3 separate regions of the Homo sapiens genome follow, and all the other regions are linked to region 2. The links come from fine-mapping of genetic effects on gene expression. A gene starts in region 2. Each other region holds a variant in brackets. All regions are shown on one strand. Distances are from middle to middle.

Region 1 (2,768 bases), 73 kb before region 2:
ATGTTTATTTCAGTTAAGCCTGGAGTAAAGGTTCATGCCAGATCTCATTTTAACAAAATGAATTCACCAACCCCTAGTAAACATTGGATGAAACTGATAATTATACTGGTGACCAGAAAGACTCCTTGGCCTTGGTTTGCAGAATTATATGACCTTACATTAATATTAGAAATCTAAATGATTAAAATCCAGGTTTGCAAATGAACATCATTTCTGTTGTAAAATTTGCTTTCAGCAAAAAAACATTTTGTAACATTCTTTCACTAAAACAGTCTTTACAAGCCAAATGAGATGGGTATTTGGGGGAAAAATTTTTACTTAATTCAGTACAAAACAATCTGAATAAAGATAGAGAAAAACTGGAATCACTTTCTAACTGTAGTTCTACATAAGTATATTTATTTTTAAGAATACCGAGGGCAGCAAGGAAATTGAAACTTTGTTTTAAAATACATATACATAGAGAACATGTATCTGAAATTATGCCCACTAATCTAGAACACTTGTTTCAAAATGTGACAACTTGTTTAGGAACATTCAACAACAAACACAATATTAACCCAGAATGTTCAATTAAGGATCAGAGCTGAGCAAACTAAAAGGTAGATTATAAGAAATTTATGTATTTAGATGTTGAACCAAAAAGAGAGAGACCATGGAGTTGTTTACTACTTGGGAAAATGTATGTTTATTTAAAATTCAAAGGAATCCTACCAGTTCTATACAATCAAAAATAAGTCTCAGGAATTGGACAGCACATCTGTGAGTCTTAATGGATAATATTAATCCATGTACATGAAACATGTAAAACATATATCAGATTCTCCCAGAATAACATGGAAGAGTGTCCAAATCTCGAATCTCCACTTACAGAGTGGTTAGACGCAAGAAAACACTGCAAATTTGAAATGATGTTCATTTGCAGACCTAGATTTTAATCATTTTGATATATAATATTTATGTAAGGTCATATTCTGCAAACCAAAGCCAGGGAGTCTTTCTGACCAGTGTAATTATATCCTTATAGCCCAGGGAGTGAGTGGAATATATTCTTAGATAACGTGACCTGAGAGAAAAAAGCCAGAGAGAGAAAACATCCAAAATACAAGGCTGTATGTAGGTGGATTCAAAACAAAACAAATTACAAGTGAACTATAAGTAATAAAGTCAGAAGACACCCAGAAGGCTAGGCAGACTGGCCATGATGGGGACTTCTGGGATTTTCAAAAGGAAGATTGGGAATGTTAATTGGAATAAAACAAGAA[GGT/G]GTGAATAAAGAAGGTGCGAATAAAGAAGGTAGAAATGCGGGGGGGAAATGACCTAAAAAACAAACAGCAAATGAAGGACCATGCCAGTGCTGGTCAGCTACAGTGAGCCTCCTGTTTCTGAAAGAACACAGAGATGAGTGTTGCAAGAATCAAACTTAAGACACTGGGAAAACATTTCTATCCATGTAAGCATAGGAAACTTTAAGTGTATTAATTATTAAGGAATACAAGTTATGTGCAGTGACTTGTTAAATAAGCCGCTGATACCAAGCAAGTGCAGAGACATTAAGGAGTCATGAAGTGAATGAGAAGAAGTCACTTTTATTACAACTACTAATTCCCCAGGAATTTGGAGATTTTTAAATACTCGTATATTCCAGCATCATTATTAACATGTCTATTTAGCACTGAAATTTTGGTCTGTACATGAACATCAATCATTTGGGCAATAGTTTCATTAAATTCATTTGCAGTCCTTTAACTCTGTTTTTTTTTTTTTTTTTTTTTTTTTTTTTTTTTTTTTTTTAGACAGAGTCTAGCTCTGTCACCCAGGCTGGACTGCAGTGGCGCCGTCTCGGCTCACTGCAACCTCCGCCTCCTGGGTTCATGCCATTCTCCTGCCTCAGCCTCCCGAGTAGCTGGGACTACAGGCGCCCGCCACCACGCCCGGCTAATTTTTTGTATTCTTTAGTAGAGACGGGGTTTCACTGTATTAGCAAGGATGGTCTCAATCTCCTGACCTCGTAATCCGCCCGCCTCGGTTTCCCAAAGTGCTGGGATTACAGGCGTGAGCCACCGCGCCCAGCCTGCAGTCCTTTAACTCTTAATGTTCAATATCTAATAGTGACTGAGAAAAACAGGGCTGTGTTTATTTGCTTATTTGTTCTTTCTGAAAAATCAAGACTTTTTCATCTATTTTTTATCACTTCATCTCAGGCTTTCCTTATATAGACTGAATTCTGATACTTAATTCTTAACATATTTTAAAATATTAATAGTAAAATGTATCTTTATATTTAAAGCCAAAAAAATGTATCCACATCTACTATGAACAAAGAAAACACCAGTGCTAGGCACTGGTGGGAGGGGAGGTGGATGATACATGAAAGCACAAGACAGAATTAGTACTCAAGGGCTTTGCAGTTCTGATGGGGAGAAAGATGTTCATTAACAATACTAGTTCATGGCAGAATGTGACCTGTGTTGCATACTGGAGGGGAAAAGTGCTACTTCTATAGAAGAGGGTGGAGACTTTAATGAAAGGAATTCCACTTCCAGTAATTTCTCTCAAAAGATCTATTGGACAAATGCAGAAAGTTACATGCACATAGATGATTCTTAGGTTAATATTTAGCCTATTTGTACTAAATAGCCAACAGCATGATTATGCCAACATGCCAATTCACATGGATACTGGATTTAGAAATGGTAGAAAATAAAATACTTTAAAGAAAAGTTGTTTCTGTTCATAAATGGTGTCTAGGACCAGCCTACAGATCT
Region 2 (2,768 bases):
GGAATTTCACATAAGAAAGAGAAATTGTGTGGGCTATTTTTTCCATTTATAACCTAATAAAGATACAGCTGGTTATTGTCAACCTAATTTTATGTTTAGAAAAATCACTTAAAGGAAGACACAAAACTGACAGGAGTTCTTCAACATTTTATTTCTCACATGAAAATGTGAAAAGTTACATTTGACAAGATAGAAAACAAAAATAAATATGTAAATTGTTGTAATAAGTAAACTGTTGCCAAGTTTCTGATGTTCCAAATAATTCATAATCTGAGAGCTTCCATACGTGGATCTAAGAAAATCCATTTGTCCTAATGTTCTGCTGAAATATTCTGAGTAGGGCTGAAATTTGCCATTCACTTTTTATGTGGATGGTGCTTATTAGGACAAAAACATCTCAGCTGCTATCACTCTAAAGGTAAAATCATACCTATTTAGTTTGAAGGTGTAGGTTTTTTTTTCCCTAAACATAAATTAAAGGAAAAAGGAAAAACGCTAGCTAAAATCCTGTATTATTAGTGATGCATTCATTGATTTATTCCACACTTTCACGCTATGCACATACAAATAAAAGTAGTTCCCTTCGAAGAGCTTACACTCTGTTAGACCTATGATATTTAGATAACTGTAACCTTATTTACTTACTTATTTAAAGAAAGTTTTCATTCCTAATAAATCATTCTCAAGGCTATATTTATCAAGGTTCATGCTTTCTACTTCCTCTTGGGGGTGGGGCAAGCAAGCGTCTTTATAAGGTAATCATGCTTGGAACTTCTGTTTGCATGCGCTCATCAAAATCAAGTGTAGCTATTTAGGGAAGCAAAGACCCTAGTCTAGGCCTGGAAATGAGATTCTCTTCTTTTTTGGCCTCCCCTTCTCTGGTTCTGAAATCAAGTTTTCCTGGTCTCATTACTAGGAATTCTTCCTCTTCTTATCACTACGCAGTACCCACAGCAAACCAGGATAATTGTATAAGCCCCTTGGCTATTTAATGTTGCTCTGAACTCAACAGGTATCTTGCAAGAATAAACAAATCCATTGTGGACTGCAAGTCACTTGCTTTCAGGCTAGGGAGAAAATGCAGCCTTAAGTCAAAAGGGCATTTTCCCTCTCAGCTAGGAGAGCCCTGTCAAGATAGGCTGCTGGTGTTCACATCTCCCTCGCAGCGAACCCCAAAGCCGCCCTGGGAGGAGAACCCGGTGACCAAGAGGACCGACTCAGAGGCCGAGCGCGCTCAGGGCTCGGAATGGGTCTGCAGGAAGTCGTCCCGAAAGAGCTGCCTGGACACGTGCGTGACACTCACCTGTTCACACTCTCCAGGCCAGGAGAGCTACGGTCCTCTGCAAGTTCGGAATGGGTCCCCCAAGATCGCGAAGCCCTCCCACACTGCGCAGCCCAGGCTTCAGGTTGCGTTTGCGAGTTGCTGGGCTGCGGTCGTGGGTGGGACTCGCCGCAGAAGCAAGTGCCAGTGGCCCGGCGGGGGTCTCCTCACTCGCGCTCGCTCCGACTAGCGGCGGAGGGACTGCGGCAGGACGCGAGCTGAGCCCGGCCAAGGCCGCTGCGCTCAGCGGCCAGGATGCTGCAGTGCGGCGCTTCGGCGCCCCCTACTGGGGGCAGGGGCAGGCTCCTCCCGCCGCGCTGCCTCCCAGGCTTGCGAGCTTGGGTCTTTAACGTGCTGCACCCAAGACGGGCTTCCCTTTTTCACTGGTTATTTCCAAGCCTCCAGGCTCCCACCGAAGGGCGGCTTTCCTCGGTCAAAACCTTGCCTAAGAAAGCATCACTACGTGGTGTTTTCTATTCCTTATTTCAAATGATCCTCGCAATATCTCTTTGAAGTATCTTTAATTATCTCCATGATACCCAAGAGGAAACTGAAGGAGAAGGTAACGCAAGGCTAGTAAATGGCTGGAATGAAATCCAGACTGGATTGGGAACTGAGAGATGCTAGGAAAAACAAACAAGGAATTCAATTGAAATTCTATTCATATATTTGAGAAAGTTCCAAAAGCTTCTCGTCCTCCTTACAGGATCAGCATTTATAGGATTTGCATTGGAGTCATACTCCATTATGCTCAGACCCTAACAAAGACAATTAATATGCGAGCTGTGCTGGACCTGCTTTCATATCCCTCATCTGATTTGATTTTTACACCCTCTCTTCATGTAAGAACTAGTATTATAATTACTAGCCTTTCACAGATGAGGAGGTGAGCTTCAGAGAGGCTAAATGATCTCCCAAAAACTGAAACATCTGAGCAAAGAAGCAGGAGGCACTTATGTTATTGTTTTTCCCTTATAAATCTGGGTATTCTTACCAAGATACCAAACGGCTTCCAGAAAACCAGTGTTATATAGAACAGACAGGGGCCTAGGGCAAACTGAACGATCTGTAGAATGTCATCAATGGGAAGGGAGGTAACCATGGAGGCAATTTCCAGAGTCCAGACTGACCTGGAAGGTCACTGCAGCCACGAGTGAATGGCTGAATGGAACAGCTAGATCTATGGCAAAAAGAGGAGTTGCCTAGCTGAGCAGGAGCTGCCCTGCTGGTTCTTTGAGAAAGCTCAAACATTGTATGGTTTATGAGTTTCCTGATCACTAATGTACCCCTCCCTCCACACCACATACATCTGGATTAGATGCCTCCCTCTGTATCTCACAGGACCCTGTGATCTTATCATTGTGTTTGTGTTGTACTCATTTCTGCCCCTTAGTCCTCTCCATTAATCTGTGAGCTCCCAGAAGCCAGGAATGTACCATGTGTGACT
Region 3 (2,768 bases), 100 kb before region 2:
CGGCACATTGCTCAAGTATTTTCCAAAAAGTAAAATTTAAAAATTAGATTATGTTCAATATTTTAATAAGTGTATTTTATGTTATTGTCATTCTCCTAGAATATGTAATCTATACATGGTGTATGCACAGTGATTCGCAATTTCAGAATATTCCATCCCCCTACTCTTTTATGTTAAATTGGAGATTATAGTTTTGTATGATTTAATGCTCTAAAATACTATTTACAGCAGCCACTTGTCTCCAAGTGTTCTCCCAACGATTTTCTTTTTTCATCTTCAGTGCTGCAGCGTGAGGAAGAGCAGCCCATTCTGCATCACGCATGCTGGGGAGCCATGCCCTTTGGCTTCTCCCTCTGCTGTTCTTTAGTGTCCTTTGTACCGACTTCCCTTTTGAAAAGACTGGCATCAGCCCCAGAGACTGGAAAACAGAGTTCTGGGCTCTATTCCATCTCTTTGCACTAAAAGTTGTCTGAGAGACAGGGACATTTTTCTGTGTTGCTTCCATGATAAATAGGGTATGTATTTCAATTACAGAATGCCACAGTAGGAGGGAAATGGAATATAATAAAAATTATATGAAGTTGTGTGATTCTTTGGCTATTTGTTAACTGAAACAAAAAGGATAAAATGCAGGAAATGAGAGAATGTCTGCCCCAGACATAGCAGCGTGTGGTAGCGTGATTTTGTCTAAGGTGAATACTGGGTTCATACCATTTTAAGCATTTTTTTTTCTTTAAGCTTCTCTCTCTCATTAGAAGCCCATTTTCTCTACGTGTAAAACAATGGAAGTATTGCCCGAAAAGGTAAAGTGTTGTGCATCTACGTGCTAACTTTTCCAGAGTTAACTCTAAAAAAATGTACTAAGTAGTTTTTGAAATTAGACTCCACTATGCATCTTAATACATAAAAGAAAATGTGTATGTGTTTGTTTGGTGGATTTGCTTTTGATTTCGTTCATACTAAACAAAAATAATAAATTGAGCCTTTTTTGGTGAAGGGTGGGGGGATGATTATTTAGGAGATAGTTCCAAGTGAACCAAAATATAGTATACTGTAAGAAAAATATGAGTTTCAAAATGGAATGAGGCATTAAAAGTTACACTTCAATTTCACTGTGAGAGATGTATAATTTAAAATCTGCACTCACTAGTAGTTTAATAACTAGAAGCATATTTTATGTAGTCAAAGAGGAGTTGGTGCTCAAAGGGATATTGCATGTGGTTAATCTTTTTACTGATTTAG[C/CTTTT]TTTTTTTTTTTTTGCGAATTTCAACACTTTAGTATGGACACTTAGCCAGCACAGTAACAGCAGCAGTTAGTTATGTTGATTTATGCCACAATGGAAATTGTACTGAGTTGAGTTCTACTCCTAGTCTAACCACAACTGGACATGTAATTTTGATTAAATTTACTTCTTGGTACCTGTTTCCTTATTTGTCAAATGACAATCTCTAAGCTCCTTGCAGTGCCAATATTAAATAATTAAATAATTCTATGAGTTGGCTAAGCACTTCTGCTTTAGAATCTGGTTAAGATAATTTGTTCTGGGTGTATCTATTTTCGTATGAACGATTCCAAGCAGCAGGAGTTGTAAGGCAGGCAAGAAGAACCAATCACAGAACCAAAGAACTAGTGGGTCTAACGTCTCCTCATTCCCATCCTCATCTGCTTAGAAAACTAAGCAGATTCAAACACAGTGCCTCCAAGGTAACAGTCGCAGTAGTGATAGAGGCTGAAATACAGTCTCTCTCTTCCTCTCCAAATGCCTCCATCACACACGCGCACACACACACACACACACACACACACACACAGTCACAGGCACACACATTCTAAGCCTCTATCTATATTCTCTGTGGTGACCAGCATTCTTAGAGGGTAATATGACTCTTGGAGATAGGGATTCAATTCTTGGTTGGGATCCATTCAGAACATGGATCCTGTTGTTCTACAATCAGATAATTGCTGCCACCACCATCAGGGGGTTTTCATGGTTAGATGGTCCAACTCGCACATCTTATGAGCTTCAGTGGTGGTTTTCAAATGTGGTTCATAGACATCTGTGTGCTGGCCACCCACAAAGATTTCACCGATCCACAGTATAATAAGGAAAATTAAAATAAAACTAAAATTGTTCAATGTAAGGAACTGATTTTTTTTACATTGTATCCTTCGAAACACTCGGATGTTAAAGCAATTTCTTTCTTTTATGAAGTGCAAGTGGAGCGTAGGTTTAGTTCCCCCTCCCCCATTTCCTTCCCTTGCCTGCATCCCTAATTGAATTATTAGGATAGGCTTTCTCCATAAAAATCAAATTTAAAAAAGTGAGTCTGAAACCGAAAAGTTTAGGAGTCACTTGCTACTATAGTAGCAAGCATTTTCTTCATTGAATTATTTCAAAGCAGTAAATATTCTAATTGAGTTAATATGTAGAATGATGTTCATAGTCTTCAGCTTCTCGTGGAGTAACAATTCTGTTCCAGGTTTAAAAAAAAACTGCCCCATGTTTCTCAGGAAAGCACTGACTTCAGAATTCAAGACTGCTTCTTGTATATAAGCTACTTGGCTTTTTAATGTAGTTATCTCTTTTGGTGGTGGTTTTGAAACTTTTAGTCAAAGTAGCTGATATGGTTTGGATCTGTGTCTCCACCCAAATCTCATGTTCATTTGTCATCCCAAATGTTAGAGGTGAGGCCTGGTGGGAGGGGATTGGAGCATGAGGTGGTTTCTCATGGTTTAACACCTTCCTTCGTGGTGCTGTCATCACAATAGTG

Direction of the effects. Positions count from the first base shown, and alleles are read on the strand shown. Sizes are in standard deviations (SD) of each study's normalised expression. Not every link is listed here.
In carriers of allele C in region 3, the expression in subcutaneous fat of the gene that starts at base 1,526 in region 2 tends to be lower than with CTTTT alone (moderate effect, 0.53 SD a copy in FUSION).

The links. PIP is the estimated chance that this variant, and not a neighbour inherited with it, causes the effect. A credible set is the group of variants that fine-mapping cannot tell apart.
Region 1: its variant is the best candidate, but not a certain one, in a credible set for the expression of RERG in atrial appendage (GTEx, PIP 0.70).
Region 3: its variant is the best candidate, but not a certain one, in a credible set for the expression of RERG in subcutaneous fat (FUSION, PIP 0.74).

The regions. Positions count from the first base shown.
Region 1 is chr12:15,147,094-15,149,861 of GRCh38, forward strand. All of the region lies in intron 2 of RERG (RAS like estrogen regulated growth inhibitor), which reads right to left. Among named protein-coding and RNA genes, the nearest start is that of RERG-AS1, 3.4 kb to the right of the region's middle. The variant GGT/G (reference allele first, on the strand shown) is at 1,266.
Region 2 is chr12:15,219,892-15,222,659 of GRCh38, forward strand. RERG (RAS like estrogen regulated growth inhibitor) reads right to left here and starts at 1,526. Exons shown (of 5, transcript NM_032918.3): 1 at 1,304-1,526. LOC124902886 reads left to right here and starts at 777. Exons shown (of 1, transcript XM_047429948.1): 1 at 777-2,087. The coding sequence starts at 1,354. The coding sequence ends at 1,671.
Region 3 is chr12:15,115,900-15,118,667 of GRCh38, forward strand. The region is part of intron 3 of RERG (RAS like estrogen regulated growth inhibitor); the gene reads right to left. Among named protein-coding and RNA genes, the nearest start is that of RERG-IT1, 2.7 kb to the left of the region's middle. The variant C/CTTTT (reference allele first, on the strand shown) is at 1,243.